Linked DNA regions of Homo sapiens: region 2 is linked to region 1. The links come from fine-mapping of genetic effects on plasma protein levels. A gene starts in region 1. The other region holds a variant in brackets. All regions are shown on one strand. Distances are between the middles of the regions. Region 1 holds the start of STX7 (syntaxin 7). Region 2 overlaps STX7 (syntaxin 7).

What was found. A credible set is the group of variants that fine-mapping cannot tell apart. PIP is the chance, under the fine-mapping model, that this variant and not a neighbour inherited with it causes the effect. The UK Biobank Pharma Proteomics Project read protein levels with antibody pairs (Olink). The fine-mapping took linkage between variants from a reference panel, not from the people measured, so its PIPs are less certain.
Region 2: its variant is the best candidate, but not a certain one, in a credible set for the plasma level of the STX7 protein (UK Biobank, PIP 0.61).

The regions. Positions count from the first base shown.
Region 1 is chr6:132,506,126-132,518,256 of GRCh38, forward strand. It overlaps STX7 (syntaxin 7), which reads right to left and starts at 6,991. Exons shown (of 10, transcript NM_003569.3): 1 at 6,882-6,991. RefSeq lists enhancers at 6,239-6,740, 7,098-7,297 and a silencer at 6,458-6,947.
Region 2 is chr6:132,467,871-132,480,001 of GRCh38, forward strand. It overlaps STX7 (syntaxin 7), which reads right to left. Exons shown (of 10, transcript NM_003569.3): 3 at 7,723-7,792; 4 at 4,412-4,505; 5 at 3,593-3,730; 6 at 2,704-2,756; 7 at 2,081-2,177; 8 at 533-605. Among named protein-coding and RNA genes, the nearest start is that of STX7, 39 kb to the right of the region's middle. The variant T/C (reference allele first, on the strand shown) is at 6,275.

The DNA of each region.
Region 1 (12,131 bases):
ACCTAAAACGATTAAAATACTAAAAGAAAATATAGGGAAAACTCTTCTGGACATTGGTTTAGGAAAAGAATTTATGACTAAGACCTCAAAAGCACAGGCAACAAGACAAAAAACAGACAAAATGAGATTTAATTAAACTAAAAAGCTTTTGCACAGCAAAAGAAATAATAAACAGAATGAACAGACAACCTGCAGAATGGGAGAAAAATATCTGCAAACTACACATCCAACGAGATTAATATCCAGAATTTACAAGAAACTCAAACAACTCAACAAAAAACCCCACAAATAACCCCATTAAAAAGGGGGCAAAGCACATGAATAGACATTTTTCAAAAGAAGACATACAAATGGCCAAGAAGCACATGAAAAATGTTTAACATCAGTAAGCACCAGATAAATGCAAATTAATACCACAATGAGACATCATCTCACAACAGTCAGAATGGCTATTAAAAATTCATCCACAAACACATCTTGAACGGAAAAAAAAGAAAAAAAGTCAAACAAGTACAGATGTTGGCAAGAATGCAGAGAAACAGGAACACACACACTGTTGGTGAGACTGTAAAGTAGTACAACCTCTACAGAAAACAGCATGGCAAGTCATCAAAGAACTAAAAATAGAATTAATATTTGATCCAGTAACCTCGTTACTGGGTATCTACCCAAAAGAAAAAAAAAACCATTATACCAAAAAGATAATCTGCACTCATATGTCTATTGTAGCAATATTCACAAGAACAAAGATTTGGAATTAACCTAAGTGCCCATCAAGTGTCTATTAACATTCCTGAATGGATAAAGAAAATGTAGTGTATATAAATGCAATGGAATACTATTCAACCTTAAAAAAGACTGAAGTTATGTCTTTCACAGCAACACAGATGAACTGGAGGCCATTATCTTAAGTGAAATGACTCAGAAAAAAGTCAAATGCTGCATGTTCTCACTTGTAAGTGGAACCTAAATAATGTGTACACATGGACAGAGAGTGGAATAAGAAGACATTGGAGACTCAAAAGGATGGGAGGGTGAGGGATGAGAAATTACTTAATGCGTACAATGTACATTATTCAGGTGATGATTACACTAAAAGCCCAGACTTCACGCTATGCAATATAACCATGTAACAAAACTGCATGTGCACCCCTTAAATTTATATAAATAAAATGGCTTTATTGAGATATAATTTATTGAGATATGGCAATACAATACACCTACTTGAAGTACACAAGCCAATGGTTTTTAATATATTTACAACATTGTACAATCATCACTTTTAGAACATTTCTATTACGCTAAAAGGAAAGTTTGTAATCATTAGCAATCGCTCTCCATTTCTCCCCAACCTCACTGGCCAAAGGTGACTACTAATCTACTTTGTATCTTTATAGCTTTGCTATTCTGGACATTTCATAGGAATGGAATCATACAATGTGTTCTTCGAGACTAGCTTCTTTCTCTTAGTATGCTTCCAAAGTCCATCTGTGCTGTATCATATATCAGTCCTTCATTCCTTCATTATTGCCAAATAATATTCCTTCATTATTGCCAAATAATATTCCAAGGTATGGAGAAAGACAATTTTCTCTTGGTTCAATGACATCTTCCTTTCTCCTTTCCCTCTATCAAGTAGATCTCTGGAAAAACTGGCTTACAAGCCAAAACAAACACATTGAATGAAAAAATGTTCAGTTTGTTATTCATGTAATCTCTGGGGATGCTCCTCCATATACATGGTTCCATTTTAATCTATACCTGAATGAGTCGCACATCCATGTCTCCAGCTCGTACCCTTGGCTTTCTCTCGTGTCTACATGTCTGTGAAGCTACAAGAACTCAGCCATTGCCTGTGCGGCACACCATGGAAGTAGCAACTGGAAATTTCTACTTTGGGCAAGACACTTAGCATTTGGGCCCACTGCCAGAATCAAAATGAGATAATGCACATCCAGAGAACAAATGCTTTTCCACCCTACACAGAGGAAAGTTATGATCTGTTCTTGCAGCTGCAGGACCAGCATCAGCACAAGACCAAGAGAAACTCATCACCTGTCTCAAAACCATGCAAGCACACCTGAGGCCTACTCTCTCTCCCATAAAGAGTTCCATCAAGTCAAGGACAGTATTCTACAGCATTTTCCTTACCCTTAAAACTCACACCAGTGTAGCCCAAGTCTTCTCACTGTTTTCTTTCAAGGCCACCTTTTTTCCTCTCTGGAAAATCAATCACTTAGTCACAAACACAATCAATTTTCTTCATCCCTTTCCTCAAGCTACTAAATGTGAGAAAGTTCCTGCTGGTGAGACAATTGGCAAGTGGCTTCATTCACCCAAAGAGGTGCTACTTAGATTGACTGGAATTATGAGTTTTGTTTTACTTTTTCTTTGTTTGGCGTTGTTGTTGTTTGAGACAGGAGCACCCAGGCTGGAGTGCAGTGGTGTGATTACGACTCACTGCAGCCCTGACTTCCAGGCTCAGGCAATCCTCCCATCTCAGCATCCCGAGTAGCTGGGTCCACAGGCACCTGCCACCACATCCCACTAATTTTTTGATTTTTTTATAGAGATGGGGGTCTCACTTTGTTGCCCAGACTGGTCTTGAACTCCTGGGCTCATGCGATCCTCCAGTCTCAGCCTCCCAAAGTGCTGGGATTACAGGTTTGAGCCACTGTATCTAGCCAGGAATCATGTGTGAAGAATGAAAAGCAATTTGCAAAAGATAGAGAAGAAAGATGTGTAAAATAAAACAAAGTTAACAATGGCCAACACTCATCCAGGACTTACATTTCCTAAGCATTGTGCTTATGACTTTTAAATTTATTTTCTCAGTTAATTCTTATAAGCCTATCATGTGGGTATAATTGCTAATGTGATTTTTTTACATGAAGAAACTGAGGCATATCATTATGCCTCATTATCATTATAAGCAAAGGAGCAAATATTTGAAAATAACCACAGAGCCGACATTTTTTAAACACTAAGCCATACTGCTTCCTTGTATAACAAAATTGAGGGCAGGTGAACTCAGTTAGAAAAACCAAATTTGGGCTGGGCGCGGTGGCTCACGCCTGTAATCCCGGAACTTTGGAAGGCCAAGACAGGCAGATGACAAGGTCAAGAGATTGAGACCATCCTGGCCAACATGGTGAAATCTCATCTCTACTAAAAAAATTAACTGGGTGTGGTGGCATGCGCCTGTAGTGCCAGCTACTCAGGAGGCTGAGGCAGGACAATCGCTTGAACCCAGGAGGCGGAGGTTGCAGTGAGCCAAGATCACGCCACTGCACTCCAGCCCGGCGACAGAGCGAGACTCGTCTCAAAATAACATAACATAACATAACATAACATAACATAACATAACATAACATAACATAACATAACATAAAATAAAAAAAGACAAAAGAAAAACCAAATTTACCACTTTTCTGCATGCCCCATATGAAGTTTTGCTATTCCCACTCCTAAGATGAAGGAATATGTTTGGGATAACTACATGAGTTGATCAAGGTAACACAGAGGAATAGCTTACTCCTTTTCTCTATTATTCTGCTAATAAGTGGTATCTAAAAGGCAACAACAGTTGGCTCTTTTGATAATGAGACACACAAAGGAAAGGAACCAAATGGTTGTCTTTAAAAAATATATATACAAGCATAGACAGACAGGATAGGTAACTACAAATTGATTAAAAGCTTATGATCTCTGCATATAGGCTAAATGGATGCTGAGTTATTCAGATGTCTGCTTTCCACATCAGTCTCCATTACCTAGCCCAGAGCTGCTACGCACTAAAGTACTCTTGTTGAATACTTTTGAAAGCCCACTCAGAATTCCTATTTAATTGCTCAGAATAATAATTATATAATTCATTACCTAGACCTGTACTAACAGACTAGCCACTAACTAAATGGGCTGTTAAAATTATAGTGGTTACTAGAAGCAGAGAAGGATGGCGGGAAGGGGATAGCCAAAGGTTGGTTAACTAACACCAAAATACAGCTAGGTAGGAGGAATGAAGTCTAGTGTTCTATACCCCTAAAAGGTGACTACAATTAATTACAATTTATTGCATATTTTCAAATACTTAGAAGAAAGAATGAATTGTGAATGCTCTTAACACAAAGAAATGTTAAATGTTTGAGGTAATGGATATGCTAATTACCCTGATTTGATCATTACACATTGTACACATCTACTGATGTATCACATGTATCCACAAATATGTAAATCATTATCTGTCGATTAAAATAATAAAAGCAAAAAAATCTTATTACAGGTTATTTTAAGCTGCTAACAAGATAACTGATTGCAGTAAGAAACTACACTTTTACTCTACATTTCATTTTTTCATGTGACAATTTACACCATTTTATATTGTGTATCACTTAAATTACATTGTAGCTCTCGTTTTTAAAAAATTAAAATTAATTAAAATTAAGTTAAATGAAAAAAATCAGTTCCTCAGTCACACTAGACACCTTTCAAATGTTCAAAAATTCTGTGTGGCTAGTGGCCAGCAGCTTGGACAGCTCATTCATAGACCACTTCCATTATCACAGAAAGATCTATTGCACAGTGCTAATCTCCACATTGCAATAATCATCTTTCTATGAAGATATACAAACACTATAAAGAGAAAAACAGGAAGGGAGAATCAAAGTGCAACACTCAGATGAGAGTCTTCTCAAGACGGCTTCTAAAGAACACAAAGGAATGAACAAAAGGAATGTTAAAATTTAATCTTGAAGTGTCAAACACTACTCCCAGTTAAAATCCGATATACTGTAGAATCCTTAAGATTTCCATTTAGCATATATCTCATGCTCTATAAATCTACCCTGGGCAAAGAAGTAGTCAATTTCACTTTCTTAATCATTAGCATCAGCATAAACAACTGGACTTCTCTATACCCTCTACCCCAAGTAAGTTCTGAGGGGTGGGGGGTGAGCATTTTTTTGTCTGTTTTGTGGACTGCACTATTCTCACTGCCTGGCTACATCACAAGTGCTTAACAAACATTTGTAGAATGAATGAATGTACCCACCTCCTAAGAACACACACCCAGCGTGAGGGTAAATATTACCATTTCCAAAACATAAAATTCCAGTGCCTTCTTTCAGATACCGAAGGTCCCAGGCTTCTTGCTGCCTTGGGCCTTTGCTGGGTGCCATTTCCTATTTCTAGAAGGCTCTTCCCATGATCTCCACGTGACTGGCTCCTTCTCCCCAGCAAGGCCTCATCACATGCTAGAGAAACCTTTGTGACCACTCTGATATGAAAGTGAGAACTCACCACTGGTCACTCTTTGTCAATCTAACTTACTGCTTCACAATACTCAAAAGTCGAATTAATCACTGTTTATTATTTATCCCTACACCTCTGGAATACAAACAGGAGCTACTTCTGGAATATAAACAGGAGAGAGATGACCTTGTCATCCTGTGTAATCTACAGTGCCTGGTGCATAGTAAATGCTCAAGGAATGTGAGGGTGCTCTGTCTACATAAGTATCCTCTGCAAAAACTACATTAACTGTATTCTTTGGCCTTAGCTCTTTCATCACTGACCTTTTGTACTACTTGGTTTTAGTTCACAATACCGAGGATTGTTTTTTTCATACTTTCACACATGAAACTTGCAAATTAAATGGAATCACAGCAAACTTCACTCAGACTTACTGTGAATATTTTCTATAATTTACTTTTCAATCATCAGCACTTAAAGTTTGGGGTCATAACCAAAATAAGGATTGATTTTGTTATCAAGAGCAACATAAGTAACATATCTGAGGAAAAATTATGATGTTAATCAGTTAATATGGTATCATATTAACCTCTACAGAAACTGTGAAGTTAAGAGCATAATTCTTAACTAGTCACGAGTCTGAGGCCAACTTCTCAAAGTAGCCTATAAGGCCTGTCCACAACACAAAACACAGTTTAACACCGTTATCAGCCTCTGCCCAGGTGTGCTCAGAGAACCTGCAGAAGAAATGTCCACTTCCAACATTATTAAATAGCACAGCATTTCATAATTACTTTCTTTTCTTCCAGATTCTGGGCAAGTTTTATATATTATATATAATTATAGTCAGAATACAACGATCTGAGGTAAACAAAAATTAACGTATACAGATAAGAGCCAAACAAATGTAAGAAATTTGTGGGAAAAAACACACAGCATTTGATCAGAAATGCAACTTTTTTTCTTTGTCTGAATTTAAAGAAAGTAACTAGAAAACAAGGTGGAGGAAATACTAGAAATATTTTATGTACGTTTAAAGGTTTTTATGTAAATTAATTAAAGGTGTATACTCAAAGAATGTCAAAGTATGTTAAAGTCATCAAGCCAAATTAAAAAAACAATACTACGATCCTCTGAATAAATAAACATACACGGTTCGCCTGCTACAGCCATACATTTTTCAGTTCCTCTATATTCGGGAAGTTTAGTGTGTTTTTCAATCCGTGAGTTGAAAAGAGGAAGAGGTCATTTGGTCGTGTCTGGATTCCTGAGCTGGGCCCCAGCCGGCTCTGGCGCCCTCCCCGGGGTGCGCTCCGCCAGCCGTGCGCCTCCGGAGCTCTGCCCAGGGGACCGCGGCGGGTGCGTGGCTGGGTAGGCCCACCTGACCACAGCCGCGCGCACCCGGAATGCGGAACGCGCCGCGCCCTTGCACCCGGCCGGGGGGCGTGGGGAGCCGCAGGCGCTCCGGGAGCTGGGGCAGTCCCGCCCTTCCTAGCCTCCCGAGTGCCTGCTGCAGAGCGCAGGGCGGCGGCCACCTGACCACGCGCACAAACAAGAAGGCGCAGCAGCCGCAGGGGCACCGCGCCTCCCTGTCGCCCGGCCAGGGAGCCCCCTCCCCAGGGTCCTCTTACCTGGACCTCCACGGCTCCCTCCTACACCTCCGACCGCCGTCACCCACCTACCCCGGAGCCCTCAGCTGCAATTCTCAGCTGATGGGCGGTGGCGTGGGGACGCCCAGTGCGCATGCCCGCAGCACAACTCAGGAAGAAGGCGGGGTTCACCCCTTTTCTATTGGCCCGCGGGGCTGAGTGACAGCGGCCCTCACCGCCCCTCCGGTTCCAAGCTAAGGAATGGGGGTATCAGCAAAATTGCAAGGGAGCTGTTCTTTGAAGCCTGACGTAGAGATGGTGAACGCCTCTTAGCCTGCGTGCAAAAAAGGACAGAATGGAGGACAGTTGTCTTCTTTATCTGGTGAAGCCAGCCTTCTTGCACGCGGGTCTTCACCCCGCCCCATTAGCTCTTGCCTGTCTTGTTTGCTAACCTTTAACTGCAGTAGATCGCGTTGACAGCTCTATCGAAAAATGCAAAGGCGAGTACACAATCCTAGCAGGAACAATGAAGGAATAAGTGAAGAGTCATCTCTGGGTGCTCACTTGTAAACAAGTTTTCCTAGTACATACAAGTCATTCTAAGCATTCCTGAAAAGCAGGGCGTAGTTTTCACAGGGTTTAAAACAAGCAGAGACAGTTCCAATGATAAATATGCAAATATATTGTAATTGTTAGATGAAAAGCATCAATTGCTACAAATGAAAGAAAGCCCTCTCCAAATTAATTAGAAGATAGATTGGCTTAGCCTTTGCCTATATTAAGGCAACACTATTTTCTAAAATGATTACCCGGATAGGTGATATCAAAAGTCCAGACGCACTTAGGTGGAAAAAAACAAAACCCAGGATAGAATTCTGATTGGAACTCACCAACACTAAGTGTGGAATGTTGTCTGCTTAAGAGAGATGGACAGAGAAAGAATAACCCTGAAAACGAGTAACCCACAAGATAGGAAATAAACCAGGAAAAGGTAAACTAGAGAATGAAGGAAAAAAGGAGGGAATTGTCCATGATGTCACCTGTTACACAAAGTTCAAGTAAATAAAGAACTGAAAGTAGTGCATTGTACTTGAGAATTAGGAAGTGGCTGGTGAACGTAGGAAGAAACATTTCAATCATTGAAGGAACACATGAAAGGATCTTACATCCATGTGAGGTTTAGTGCACTTTCCAAATACCCATTCATATTACCTTTGATAGAACTCTGGGCTCCGGGGAGGGAAGGTACAATGCACTACAGAAGAACCTGAGATTAAGTGGCCTCTTCAAGTTACCCTGATAGTTACTGACTATGCTGGGCCCAAAACTTAGCTGTCTGAGCCCTCATCTTGGGCTCATTCCAATTCCTTGTTTTAAAATATGTTATGAGTGGATTCCTTCCAGGTCTTTTGAAAACTTAGAATAAGATTTCATCCTTTGGTATTCAAATGGGAAAAAAAAGAATTATAGTCTAGACAAACTTGCAAAATTTAGAAGTATTAAGATAAATGAATTACTAAGAGTTCCTGACACAGTATTCCATCTGTGAATCTGGCTGCTACCAAGTTAAATTCAGCCAGGTGTCTTGAAAGTGGTAGGGCTTTAAAAGTCTCCTAATTTGATGAGTGATAATGTCACATCTCCCAAAATAAATCATTTCCATGTGCAGAAGTTACCTATGACTGAAAGCTTGTAATTTGGATTTTCAGAAATAGTAATTTGCGAGATTTGGGCCTTCTTGGAGAGATTTTGAAGGAAACCAGAAGTTGTTGAGTGGGGAATGTTATCTGCACACTTGTGGTGTCCTTATTAATATAAATACCATAAATACCTCCTATGTAACATCTCTCATGTAGGATGGAGAACTGTCCACTGCTGTATCTCCAGTGTCTGGGATAGCAATTCCAGGGAATAGAAGGAGATAATTGCTGGTTCATTTAATAGTTACTGAACTAAAAATATTTTTTACATGACCACTATGTGATCTTCTGGGAAAGCCAAAGAAGTAAAAGACGCATAAAGGTAAATAGAGCAAACAGGGACTTATTGGTAAGTGAGAAGGACAAGTTGACTTATGAAGGTTTGTTTTTATTTATAATACAGTGGGAAAACCACAACTGGTTTAAAAAATCTATGCTAGATTAAAAGGAAGCTTAAATTAATACTTAATAAACAAGAGTTAGTTCAGTTGTGCCTTATTGTTAAGCACCTTCCATGTCTCTCTACAGTCTACTTGTTTTCTGTTTAAGATCACACAAGTGCCTAGTCATATATCAAGCACAGAATTGATTTTGCCCTAGCTTTTGAACATGGAGGTAATAAACAGATATCCCGTGGAAATCTTACATGGGCCATTATAGCATGATGACCGGTATATTTGTTTCTAATTTTACCTCCTGATGACTGGTATTTTCGTTTCTAATTTTACCTCCTAAGTGTTGTTCATATGTGCCCTCTTCTCTCTGTCCCTCACGGTTGACATCCTGATCCACTGCAATAGCCTCCTTGTTGGATCTTCTATCTCCAGGTCTTCTCAACTTTATTATTGTCAAAGCCACCACTGAATATTTGAAGCTCTAATCTGAGAACTTTGCTCCAGGCTTCATGCCATTTCCATGATTGCAGCATTCCCTGAACTGTATTTCTTAAGAAAAAAAACCAAAATAATTAGATTGGGGAGAGCTGGGGAATTGTGTGGGTTGAAATAAGGAATCAGGGAATTGGTCTACAAAGAAATGTTTGGGAAACATATTATATTGCATTCTTGAAGATTCACAGAGCATATTTGTAAATTAAAGACGCTGAGAAGTGGTTCAGGAAAGAAACAAGTAAAAATTTCTTTTACCCAGTATTTTATGAGTGTATTTGATGGTGGAACTTGCCTGTAAAACTTTTAAATATGCATAATGGAAAACACTGCTCTCAAAATCAAGTCCAAGCCCCCTGCATATACACAGGGTGACCATATATTTAGTTTGCTAGGACAGCCCTAGTTTATGCTTGTTGTCCTGGCCGCCTGTCTTCTGAGCATGCCCTTTCATTCTCAAACGTGCTTCAGTTCAGATGATGCATCATATGGTCCCTATACATATAAGGACCACATGGTCTGATCCTGCCTTTCCAAGCATCAAAATTTATGCTTGGAATATGTTGGCTTAAATAACTCCTCTTTCTCTGTCTGCTCTCCCCTCCATCCCAGCAGCTAGCTCCCCAGTCACAAACCAGGGGTTTTCTTATTTCTGTGCTTCGCTCACGTAGTTCCCATTAGCTAGAAAACATTTTTTCTTCTCCCCCATGTTTTAAACGATTCTTTATTTTGGAATAATTTTAGATTTATAGAAGAGCTGCAAAGATAGTACAGCACTCCTGTATATACCTCACCCAGGTTCCCCTAATGTTTCCTTAATGTTAACATCTTACATAACCATGGTCCACTTGTCAAAACTAAGAAATCAGCATTGGTATAGCAGTACCAACTAAATTAGCTTGTATTCTCCCTGCTCCAGCTCTAGAATCAGTCATTTTACTATTAAGCACTTCTTCTTTTTATTGGAAAAAGCTATTTAGAAATCAAAGGCCAGGACCACCAGGCACAGTAGCATGGCTCACACCTGTAAACCCAGCACTTTGGAAGGCGAAGGCAGGCAGATCATTTGAGCCCAGAAGTTCGAGGCCAGCCTAGGCAATGGGGCAAAACCCTGTTGTGATGGTTAATACTGAGTGTCAACTTGATTGGATTGAAGGATGCAAAGTATTGATCTTGGGTGTGTCTGTGAAGATGTCGCCAACAGAGATTAACATTTGAGTCAGTGGGCTGGAGAACACAGGCCCACCCTTAATCTGGTGGGCACCATCTAATCAGCTGCCAGCAAATATAAAGCAGGCAGAAAAATGTGAAAAGGCTAGACTAGCCTAGCCTCCCACCCTATATCTTTCTCCCGTGCTGAACGCTTCCTGCCCCTGAGCATCCAAGTTCTTCAGTTTTGGAACTCGGACTGGCTCTCCTTGCTCCTTAGCCTGCAGACAGCCTATGGGACCTTGTGATCATGTGAGTTCATACTTAATAAACTCATATATATATATATATATATATATATATATATATATATATATATATATATGTATTCCATTAATTCTGTTCCACTAGAGAACCTTGGCTATTACACCCATCTCTACAAAAATTAGCTGGGTGTGGTGATGTGCACAGTAGCTATAGTCCCAGCTACTCAGGAGGCTGAGGTGGGAGGATTGCCTGAGCCCAAGAGGTCAAGGCTGCAGTGAGCCAAGATCATGCCACTGCACTGCAGTGTGGACAACAGAGTGAGACCCTGTCCCCCACCCTACCAAAAAGAAGAAAAGAAAAGAAATCAAGATCAAGGCACTAACCTTCTCATTGTTACTAGGGTGTCAGTGCTTCTACGCTCCCCTCAATGGACAGAGCTAGGAAATAAATTTATATATACTAATTCATGTATGTAGGATATTTACTCCAGGCTTCATGCCATCCCCATGTTGGCTGCATGCCCCAAAATATATTTGGTAAAAATAAAAGTGCTTGGACTGGGCAGAGGTGGGGTTTGTGTGAGTTGGGGTAAGGAATCAGGGAATTGATCCATAGAGAAATGTATACAGTATACATTATATGCAGTATAAGCCTTGTATAAAGTATGTCTATAAATTTAATTTTACAAGAAACTGCCAAGTTGTTTTCCAGTTGTTTTACATATCCATAGCTATATCAGATTTTATCTATATATATAAACACGAGTTCATCTAGGCATTCCCAATTCTAATCCAACATTATAGGGGTCATTCTAGCCTTCCCTTGTCCTAATTTTTAGCTTCTTTCGCTAGAAGTGAGAAACCTAGCTTCCATTATCTACCATTTATGTTCTTATTTCTATAATGTAAAAAATTAGGTTGGTGCAAAGGTAATTGTGGTTTTTGCCATTAAACCGCAATTACCTTTGCACCAACCTAATAGCTTCAGAATTGCTAACTCCTACTCTGTGTGAGAAAAAAATCTTTAGTGCAGTGTTTATGTACAATTCTTTTTGTCTTTAGCCTTATAATATTGAGTCAAAACAATGTTTTCTAAAAATCACCAAGGTCGGCTCTTTACCCATCCCCTTCAGTGAAATTAGGTTATGTTGACTTTGCAGTTAAATTCAGTTGTCATAGATCTGCATTTTATCCTATGATCCACAAATATACTGATTGATTTTTTAAATTTGTATAAAGCTCATTGTTTGTGGTATATAGTTCTGTGGATTTTTGACAGATATATAGAGT
Region 2 (12,131 bases), 38 kb before region 1:
CTTAGCAACTTTAGAAAAGAAAATCACTTCTAAAAAGAATTCCTAACTTCTATGTAATACTACTAAATTCATCTACCAAAAAGCTATTAAAATGAATGATTAGGCAAATGTCTACCTATTCCCTAATACCTAAAAGACAAGATGTCATGCACAGTTACATATACCACAAGTTTCCCCAAAAGTGCTTAGCATGATGACAAATAAATTGGAGTAAGACTAAAACCAGAGGCCCTGGAAATAAGCTGGAATAATGTTTCATGGTGCCTTCCATGGTCTTGGCAGCAATAGGCCCTGATTAAATTTGGGCTTCTGAAATAAATGAAGCTGGTTATTTCAACCAGCACGAGTTAAAAATGAGATCTGTTTTAGATAATGCCAAGGGTGATGCTTACTGTGTTTTATAGACCATGCTTTTGGTTCCAGGGAAACCAAAAAAGGGACAGAAAGTGGTTACTCTTCTGTGAGAAAGTTACAGCAGGTAAAGTGCATGTAGCTTGCTCTCACCTCCAAAATCTAAGTCAGCAGGTCTTACCTATTACATCTCCTTGTTCATGAATCATCATTCCCAAATCTTTAAATATTTCATTAATATCCATAATATCAGCCTAAGAGAAAACGCATATATTATTATAATCAGAAATTCAGTCCCCATTCCATAAAAGAGGAAAAATTTTAAAAACCCAAACCACTACTCACACATGGGTGAGCATGCATCTATAATACACAAATATAATACATAAACTTTGGAAATATCAGGAAAATATTTGACAATAATTAAGAAGAATTTGAACAATAGCCACCAGTTCTCTAAAATCAGTTTGTGGCATTAAAAATACCAAGTGAGCGAGGCAGGATGGAAATGAATGGAAATGAAGGATCTATAATAGAGAAGAGCCATGGATTGCTGAGTTCATTTTATACAACCTGATAGTTTTGTTATCACAAGCAGTATCTACTTACAAGGGTATAAAATATTCTTAGCATGTATTTCTAGTAAAATTTACACATCAATTTGACAATTTAAAGTAATAAAACATTAGGTGTAAATTTAAAGTCTCACATTAATAATTTGAACATGCAGTGGATTAGTGAAATGTCACTACTGAATAAAGAAGTTATAAACTTGGTGATTAAATATAAATTTACTTTTCTTCAATGACACAATTAACTGCTTCATAAAGTTTTTATAAGGACTAAATGAGATAATTAACATAAAGAATTCATCCCACAAGTGCCTGGCACATGGAAGGTCTTCAATAAATTGTAGCCATTGTTAGCTATTATTAGCCTTCTTTCTAGGAACTAAGTAGGTTCCATAAGAACTATGACTTAATAAATCCTTTAGATCTCTTTGATGTCATAAACATAGTAAAGAGAAATAAAATTCTTTGAAGGCCTTATAAAAGGTCTTACTCATGCAGGTATGATGTGTATCATGTGCTCTGGGAAGACATCCAGACTCTTGGACAGACATTTATCTCTACACTGGTATTTTCTCAATACTAAGGTGGTCCATAGATGGCTTGATATAACAATAATAATTTTTAAAAAGCTGCAGTAGGAGGGAGTATGATCCCTCGTCCTAGCACAAACAGTAAGGACAATATTATTTTTTTAAAAAAGGAATTATTCCAACTCATACATTACAAATGCTACCAAACTGATACATTAATTTTCTTTCTCTGGGCCAGACATGGTGGCTCACATCTATAATCCTAGTACTTTAGGAGGCCAAGGCAGGCAGATCACTTGAGACCAGGAGTTTGAGAACAGCCTGGCCAACATGGTGAAACCCTTTCTCTGCTAAAAGTACAAAAAATTAGCCAGGTGGGGTGACACGTGCCTGTAATCCCAGCTACTCAGCAAGCTGAGGCACAAGAATCGCTTGAAGCTGGGAGGCGGAGGTTGCAGTGAGCCGAGATTCCACCACCGCACTCCAGCCTGGGTGACAGAGGGAGACTGTCTCAAAAAGAAAACAAAATTTTTCTGTCTCATGCATTCTCCCAGCATTACCTAAGCATCTTGAGAACAAACTCACTAAGACCAGAGCAGCAGCCCAAGTCTACAATGTAAGCCTTACTTCAAGTTGCCTGATAGAAGATTCTCTCTCATGAATAAGACGGAGGTCATCCTCTGTAATTTCTTCATCCTGCACCTGCACTTGAGGTTGAGTTTGGCTAACAGAAAAAAATGAATGTGGAAAAAAACAAAGATTGGTATTCAAAACAATGGGACTCATTTCCTATTTAAGATATATTCATTAAATAGGATATTTTATTCTCCAAAGTCACAGAACTACTCAAAAAAATTCTAAGAATATAACAGATATATTAATAAAATTTATTCATTTTTCATTTCACTTATATCATTTTAGCTAATGTGAGTTTAGAGTTATTACTTAATTATTGGAAGCTGTATCTGTCAACTGGGTATTTCTTCTCAGCTGATTTAAACCTCATATAAGGGAATGTCTATATTAATAATTAAGTCCATAAACATTTATTTGGAAAACTTTATATATTTTGTAATAAATACTTTATAATTACTTAAAATTTTTTTCAAATTTACTCTGTTTTCAACATATAAACAACTTAGGATATTTATGATATAATATATTGAAAGCTTTAATTCTGTTCCAGGGACCTTAATGTATAAACTTTGAAAAATTACCTTTTGATCTGTAAAATGTTTTGTATTTCTTACCTTTCCCAGGATACAAGATTCCTTTCTTTTGAGCTGTCCTCAGGAAAACTGCCCTGAATAATTTAGTAACAGGATGGAATGAGAAGGGGCAAAAAAAGCAAAAATGAGAAAAAATAAACACTCATATTTTCCCTTATAATAAACTAAACTGATTTATGTACGTGTCTGTGTGTATGTGTGTGTGTGTGTAGAGACAGAGAGAAAGAAGTTCTTGTTCTAATTTTTCAGGTCAACTGCTTCAAGTAATAATATAATTATAAGTAATTTTATATTCTAAGTAGACAAGAAAGGAATTCACTAAATATTCTCAAGGATCAAATAAGTATTATTTAGTTAAAGCTTAATGTAGTCTTGGAATCCATATGTTAATGAATAAGAAAATAACTCATGATAGTTTCTAAGGGAATTTAAAATTAGATTAATTCAAAATTCTATTGTAAAGCTTCCTTTCATTTATTTTCTCCAGGCTCATGTTCATTTTCAATATTGATACAACATACTTGCGCCATTCATCTCCGTCATCTTGGTGTAATCCAGGAGGAAAGTGCTTTCTACACTAGCGTGTACACAAGCAGAAAGCCTCAGTACCAAGACGATGTGAGAATACTACTCAGGATTTGATCCCTAATCTTTTTTGACAAAATATGTCTCTATATTTTTATATACTCTGTAATCTTCTGTACTATGACACAAAAAATCACCACCGTAATACAAAATTATCATCCTTTTCTAAAAATGGAGCAGGAAAGCATAAAAATAAATATTCAAGAGCTGATTTCCAAGATATTCACAGATCTTTATGACTTAAAAAATTATGCTACTATAGACTTTTATGGGACCCTTAGCAAGTAACCATGTTCATTTCTAGAATGTCTTTTAAAATACTTACAGACACTCTGGAACTGGCTCTTACTCGAGCAACAAACTCTTTCTCTCGCTCAGCAGCCTGCCTCTGGACCTTCTGGAAGTTTGTCAGTGATGTTGTGAACTCTGCCACTAAGCGATCCTTCTGTATTTTCCTTTGACGCTAGAGGAAAGAGAAGAAAAAGCCAACTAGAATCTAGCTGTGAAGTTCAACTGAATTTGCGGTAGTTGGCTCTTTATTTAACCCTGAAGTTTTCACTTACTCCCCAATTACAGGGCCTTACAGATTAACTCTCAGTAACATTCTGATAGTATGTCAAATACTGTGCATATTTAACTTGAGGCAAAAGACCCATTATGCTGGATTTCTCACCTCAGGTTTTCACGCTGCTAAAAACTAGCTTATTATTTTGAGGCTATTTTAAAGTAATTCTTTTTCAGGCAAATAAAGCCTTATACTTTTAGCTAAGTAATAACTTCCATTAAATAAGCAGGGAAATAAATATGTGCCCCCAGGACACCTCACATCTTGAATGAGCCTGCATGTTCCACGCAGTCAGCCCCGGAAGGCCAGGAAATAATTACTCAGGAAGCATTTTCTGAGAACTAACTTAATTATGGGTCAGGGCAAATGCATGGAAATAATTTTTGCTTTATTGAACCACAGGATACTACCTGAGCAATTAAATATAGTTTTGTGTTCTGTGAACTAATCTCAAACAGAATTATTTTTGATTTCCTTTCTAGCATAATTTCCTTTCTAGCGTAACAGTTCAAAGATCCTACAGTGCACTGGGTTTTTTTCACATTCAATACATCAACAATGTGTCTTAAAGCTTGATACCTGTTCACTGGGGGTGGTGGGCAGAGATCCAAACTCTTTAATGTACTTATCTGTTTCTTTGGCAAGCTGGTTAGTATACTGCTGCTTCTGTTGCCTAAAGTGAGAAAACACGCATTACAGCCAAAGGACTAATATACTTCTTTAAGCTTCAACTCTGCCTTTTGAATCAACACTGATAAACAGTTGTACAAAAATTGCCTTTTCATAAACTGGCTCTCAACTTTCTCTATCAAAAAAAATTTCATATCCTATTCTTTGATAAATAATGAGCAAATATTATATGTCAGGTTCTTCACTCACACAGGGTAGGCAAGCTTAGAGAAATCAATTCAACGGCCATTTAGAAACACAGATGACTTGAATCAGAGGGAACCTGAAGGAGAGACTGTTAGATGTCTGATCCTTTATGTTTGAGATACTGGGGATGTGGAAGCCCTTTATCTGCATCTCACACCTGGAAGGTCAGGTAAGCAAGAAAAGATTTGTTACCTTAGACTTTGCCCAGTTCCCAGATCTAGTTATATCTGGCCTCTCTTATTTCTCTATGTGAACATGTATATGCTATAGATACTTAAAAAAAAGGCGGGGGGGAGGGGCCAGGCATGCTGGCTCACACCTGTCATCCCAACACTTTGAGAGGCCGAGGCAGGCGGATCACTTGAGGCCAGGAATTTGAGACGTGCCTGGCCAACATGGCGAAACCCCATCTCTACCAAAAATAACAAAAATTAGGTAGGTGTGGTGGAGCATGCCTGTGATCCCAGCTACTTGGGTGGCTGAGGCAGAAGAATCACTTGAACATGGGAGGTGGAGGATGCAATGAGCTGAGATTGCACCACTGCACTCCAGCCTGAGCAACAGAGGAAAACTCTTGTCTCAAAAAATAAAAATAAAAAGGAAAGAGGCAATATTGGTACAAATTTACTATTATTTAAGTTTACGCTGGAAAAAATAATGGCATTTCCTTGTAAAGGGAAAGAACACAATAAATAAAAGAAGTAAATTATAGTCATCCCTCAGTATCTGCAGATTGGTTCCAGGACCCCTGTGGATACCAAAATCCGCTGATGCTCAAGTCCCTGATATAAAAAGGTATAGCATTTGCATATAACCTATGCATATCCTCCCATATCTTTAAATCATCTCTAGATTATTTATAATACCCAATACAATAATGTAAATGCTATGTAAATAGTTGCTATATTTTATAGTTCAGTTTTTTTTTTTATTATTGTGTTGTTTTTTTTTTTTTCTTGAATATTTTTGACCTGCAGTTGGTTGAATCTGGGGATATATAATCTATGGATACAGAGTGCTGACTACATATCCATATTTTATCTAGCTATCTTATAAATTGAAAAGATTTCCAACTTAAAAACATGACACTAAAAAAAAGCTCATATTAATTGTGATGTTTTACAAATCACAACATCAGTACCTCTTATATATTTCATCTCATTTTAAATATGGTCTGGTCACACTTGGGGTCCTTTAAAATAATGAGATATTGTATAAGAATATGCTTAAGAATAGGGATCTGTATTTGACTGACAAAGGGTAATTAAAATCTATTTCTATCTCTATTTACCAAATACCCTATCTTTAATGCATTTTTGTAAATCTCTGGAAATCATAATATAGTCAAAGTTTTAAAAAGAAGACCTTAGGCTGGACATGGTGGCTCATGCCTGTAATCACAGCACTCTGGGAGGGTGAGGTGGGTGGACTGTCTGAGCCCAGAATTGAAGACCAGTGCCGGCAACATGGCAAAACACCATCTCTACAAAAAATACAAAAATTAGCCAGGCATGGTGGATGTGCCTGTATTCCCAGCTACACAGTAGGCTGAGGTGGGAGAATCGA[T/C]TGAGCCTAGGAGGTCCAGGCTGCAGTGAACCGTGATAATGTCACTGCACTCCAGCCTGGGTGACAGCATGAGATCCTGTCTCAAAAAAAAAAAAAAAAAAAAAAAATCCTTAGTGACTACGGATATATATTCAGAATCTTCATTATTAACTCTATCAAAATATTAGAACTTTTATGAATTATGTACTTCTATTCCATTTTACTTTAGTTTAATGAATTGTGGTTTATTATTTAGATTTGGAGCATTTTTACCATTCTGACACTTACCCACTGTGGAAAAATAAAATATAAATTAGAGATAATTGTAAGTCCTTCAAATTGTACTTCCTAAAAATATGAATTCCTATTACCTATCTTTTAATATCGTCCTCTTTGCAGTTTTCCCTCTATAGTTAATGTTGTTTAGAAGTATTGCTTACTAGATATATGTGACTTGAAATTTACAGCTGTAACAGTACTGAAATAAAATTTAAGAGTTAAGTTCTAAATGACATTGGGTAACTCGTTAAACCCGTAAGAGACATGAACAAAATGGAAACAGTTCTTTTGGTCTATTTCTCTTACTCTAATTCTGTAAGGTTTAAATGATAAAATATGTAAAAATACTCTGTAAAATCCACAACATACCACAGACAAAATATTATCACTATGACTGCTGGTCTTCTAACAGCATATTAATTTACTGGAATATGTACTATATAATTCATTATAACTTTTTTTTAAACGGAAGCTAATGCTCTCTGAAATTCAAGGATGTAGGTATAAACTTGTGGGGAGACAGCTCACGTAGCTGGTTATGTATTGGATCTAAACCAAATAAAACTCTGGTGACTGCGGGGATTTTTAGCTATGGAAAGTAAATCACATAAATTGAGATACTAGAGTATAATTTTTCAACAGCTGTCAAAAACAACCTACCTAAAAACTGTAAGAAATGCAACTAAAGAAATTCTGCTTTGATAGGGTAAGCCTATCAAGGAATTTTTTTTTTTTTTTTAAGACAGAGTCTTGCTCAGTCGCCCAGGCTGAAGTGCAGTGGTGTGATCTCGGCTCACTGCAACCTCCGCCACCCGGGTTCAAGAGATTCACCTGCCTCAGGCTCCTGAGTAGCTAGGACTACAGAAGCTCGCCACCACGCCTGGCTAATTTTTTTATTTTCAGTAGAGACGGGGTTTCACCATATTGGCCAGGTTGGTCTCGAACTCCTGAACTTGTGATCTGCCCACCTCAGTCTTCCAGATCTTTAATATAAAAACACCTGCCTACTCCAGACAGGGAAAAATCTACACAAAAGCTTGGTACAAATGTATGGATAAGGTAGCAGAAAAACTCCATTGTTTTTCCATTTTTTCTTCCAGTAAACATAATATACTACATACTGTAAAAGCAACAGAATAATAGCAATAGAGTTTTTTCTTTCTCTTTTATTTATTTAACTAGATACTTACAACTGTTGCCTCAATTCAGGTGAATCTTGAGGTGTTCCAAGTTGATTCAGAGTTCTTTGTATTTCCACAGCTATTATAATAGAAAATTCATGTATTAATTGTCACAAAAGTTAAGGTAACAGAAAGAGTTAAAAATTAATATGTACAAGCAATTGGGCAGTTGAAAAGAGACAGAAAAACAAAGATGAAAATAGAAAATATTAACTGGAAAAAAGAATAACTAAATGGTTTACTTAAATCTAATTAGTAACAAAAATTTTCAAGAGGAAATTGTGTGAGAATGTTAACTTGTGAAAATGCACTTATGACCCAAAAATACTATCTTCTTCCTTATCCCATCAGGATATTATTAAGTAAATACAAGGGCACACAGACTTTAACACTACTAGCATAAAAATTGTGAGGAAATAAGTAACAATTACATATTTCATTAGAATATAATATAAATAAGTTATTGTTAATAAATGAGAGGAATAGAATTACAAAAAATCATTTTTCAATTATCCATGTAATAACTGATTTCAGCAAGGTCATCAAAAAATGCTAAAATCACAGGACATTCATACAACTTAAATTACCACCACACAGATGACATTAATTACAAAAGATATAACTTTATCATATATAAATCTGTTGTCTGAAAACAAATGACCAAATTTAGCAGTGAGAATGGAAAAAACTGACATTATGAACCTTGTGGCATGCTGCAGCGAGAAAGCCACAATATGATCTGAGGATTTTTCTTGCCAAAATATTTAACATGAATCTAATCACAAAAAGAAATTAGACCAGTCTAGACTGTGGGACAATCTACGAGATAACTTGCCTGGGCATTTAAAGACGTCAATGTCACAAAAGGGAAAAAAAAAGTTGACAAAGACAGAGGTGCTTTCTAAATTAAGGAATTAAAATACCCAAAAGACACTGTATGATTTTTGACTGGATTCTGAATCAGGAAAAAAGCAAGCACTATAAAGAAAATCATAGGGACAACTGGAGAAATTTGAATACAGAAAGTAAAAAACACATTAAACAAAAGTTGAAAAATGCCCACAACTGGCAAATCCAGGTGAAAGGTTCATTGTACTATATACTTATATATATATTTTGTGAGGTTTAGAAAAGATTTTAAAATAAAAAGTCCAGGGCTTAAAAGTCATGTTAAACTCACAATCCGGAAGTCTATGACTATTGCAATTTTTTTAAAAAAGGCTCTACACAAAAGGGGAGGACCTACAGTTTTATGTATGTGGGGACATAAATAAAATGTCATGGTACATAAATAAAACGTCAAGTAGAAATAAGCTGAAAATCCAAAGAACTCTTAACAATCTAACCCCCTCATTCTTTTTATTTAAATGAGTGGTTTACTTATATAGCTTAAATGCTTTAAAACTATTCATTATTTACATGCTCAAGGGAATGATAAAGTATTACAAAATGCAGGATAATTTTGGTCACCGCGAATGATGTAATAAATACTGCTTTTAAGTGAAAGCTGAAAAACAGAAACACTAGAGAAGAATCAAAGCATATAGCAACTCTTAGCATTTGGCTAATTTAATAGGAATTTATTTTTGCTTTTTGGGGGTTGATTTTTCCTTTCATAAGACAAACAAATTTTGTTTGCCGTGTTTAACTTATGGCTGCTTATAATTAGCTATATATTCCCTCTCAACCTCAACAGATTTTCTTGAACTGCCTTATAGGGGCTTTATTTTCTTAAGCGTATTGATAATACAAACTGTAGTATGGGCATCGATAGACTATTGGCAGGTATTTATCTCAACTCTAAAGTGTTATTGTTCTTTAGGAAAAAATCATAGCAAGTGAGAAAAAATAAATTATTTAATAAATGACACCAGGAAAACTGACTAACCATTTGGGCAGGGGAGAAAGAACCCTACCTCCCAGCATATAGCAAAATACATTTTTAATAAACCATTAATTTAAATAGTAAAATTGAAAATATTAAACTGCTCTAAGAAATATAAATGTTTTTATTATATGATCTTATACATGATCTTGGAGTAAGAGATATAAAATATTAGCTAAGCATGACACAAAACTAAAATCCACAGAGGAAAATATTGACAAATTTGACTACATAAAATAACTTGGTTAAATGTTATACAAAAAATGTGTACATATATCACAAGTATATATGTAAGTGTGTGTTCATATACACACAGGAGACAGTAACTGCAGGTTATGATGAGGAAAGAGGTTAAACTACAATGGTAATTATTTTTGGTAACAGAACAACAGCCCAGTAAAAAATGGACAAAGGTTATAATCTTGCAATTTACAAAAGGCAAATGTGTACATAACAAAACTTCAACTTCACTGATAATTAAACTTTTATGTTTCTGATTGGTAAAAATTATGAAAAGCAGTTGAGAATATAATTACAATCAAAGGCCTTAAAAACAAAAGGTAAAGACTACATAATATATAAGAAAGAGGGAGCAATAGTCAATAACTATAAATAATTTAGAAAATGTCAGACAATCCAGTAGAAAAATGGGCCAAGACACGTGTATATCTATATAACAAACATGCACGTTCTGTACATGTATCCCAGAACTTAAAGTATAATAAAAAAAAAGAAAAATGGGCCAAGAATAGGAACTTTAATATTCATGAATAAACTGAATAGCAAAAAAAGGACCGAAATGCATATCAATTTTGCAAAGTACAAACAAGTACACCACATGAATGCTATATAAAATTACTCAGCCAATTAAAGAATTGAGTAGAAATGGATTCTGACAGGCCCAATGGGAGCCTAGTTCCACCATGTGGTAATTTCCGGTTTCTGAACAGATATACTGAGCAACCCCCAGTTCTCACTCATACTCCCTGAGTAAGGGCTCTTATGGAAGGAAGAAATCATTGGAAGCCCCTGGGGACCCACTCTAATAAAAAAATAAAACCAAGGGCATTATCTATTCCCTGGGAATTACTCAGAAATGCCACCATCAAGGACAGAAAGAGCAGGGAGTGGACATGCCTCTCATTCCCATTTAACCGGCCTATCTGGAGAATGCAGAAGGCTAATGCTCATGATAACTAGCAAAAGCTTATTCAGGTGGTGACTCCAACTGCACTGTTCCTCAAAATGTGATGGATTTACTACAACAGAGCATCACAATCTCTAGCAACCTGTATATACCTGCTTATATGGCAAATACTTTTTGCTCTACCCTAAAGGACAGAGAACATGAGAAAGGATTTGCTATCAATGGGATGGGACATCAGCGAGCCTTCACAGGCTTATCTCACGGTTATGCACACTGTCTATCTTTGTACTACAATTTCGTTGTCAAGGATACGGATCATCTCCTCCTACAGGACACTACATTAGTCCAATACACTGGTTACGTCTGCTTTTAGGACCAGAAAAGCAGGAGGCAACATGTACTCTTAGATGCCTGCAAAGCATAAGTAAGCCAGCAGGTAGAAAATAAATCCATGAAAATACAGGGCAGTGTTTCCTCAGTGAAAAATCTTGGTGAATTAATCTGTAGATAACTGGCATACTTCTGCAAAGTGCTTTTCTTTGTAGCCTCAAGTACAAATGAGAAACAGACTTTTTATGCTGCTTCCACCCTTTACTGAATGACCCAAAGGTTACCAGCTTTAGCTTCAACTCCCAAAAAGAAAAGACCATCCAGCGAGTTCAAGTGGTGGTATAAGCAGATCTACAACTTGGCTTTAATGACCCAGCTGATGCAATGGTACATCAAGCCTGTGCAATTTCAGGGCACCGAAGAAAACTAGTAGCAAATCCCAATAGGAAAAACACAGGGGTCCCTTAGAATGTTGGAGCAAAACCTTCCTTTTGAGACTTGTTCTGGCCTTGCTACTGAGCCCTGGATAGAATAAACAATGGTACAAGGTAACCAAGTGACTCTAGCTGTTCACCATGAATTGTATCTTGTTGGTACAGCCTTTCTACATTTTGCTCTACGTATGTCAGTCAGCCTATCCCTCACCCCAACTCCTGAAGCACTTGTTCAGTGAAATAATAAACTAGCAATGGCTGTCAGAACAAAAGCCACATATAGACTCAACAATATGGATTTCCTCTTACTCAGACTGACATGACCATGGGTATTGCCGTACACCAATTTGCAGCAATAGCAATCTCATGTTATACTCTATTAAATCATTTTTGTTTGATTTTTTGTATTAATTTTTTCATTCATCCTTTGGACTTCCCAGATGCACATCCATACGCTCTACAGAGATGATTTTACCCATTTTATTTTCTATGGCTAATTATCTTTACAAACACTTTCAATAACGTGCTAATTTAAAAATAAAAAGTAAACTAGTGATGTGCCGTTGTTGAGGGTTGACCCAACTAGCTGCTCCTTCCATCTTGGAGGAGGCAGAATTTTATA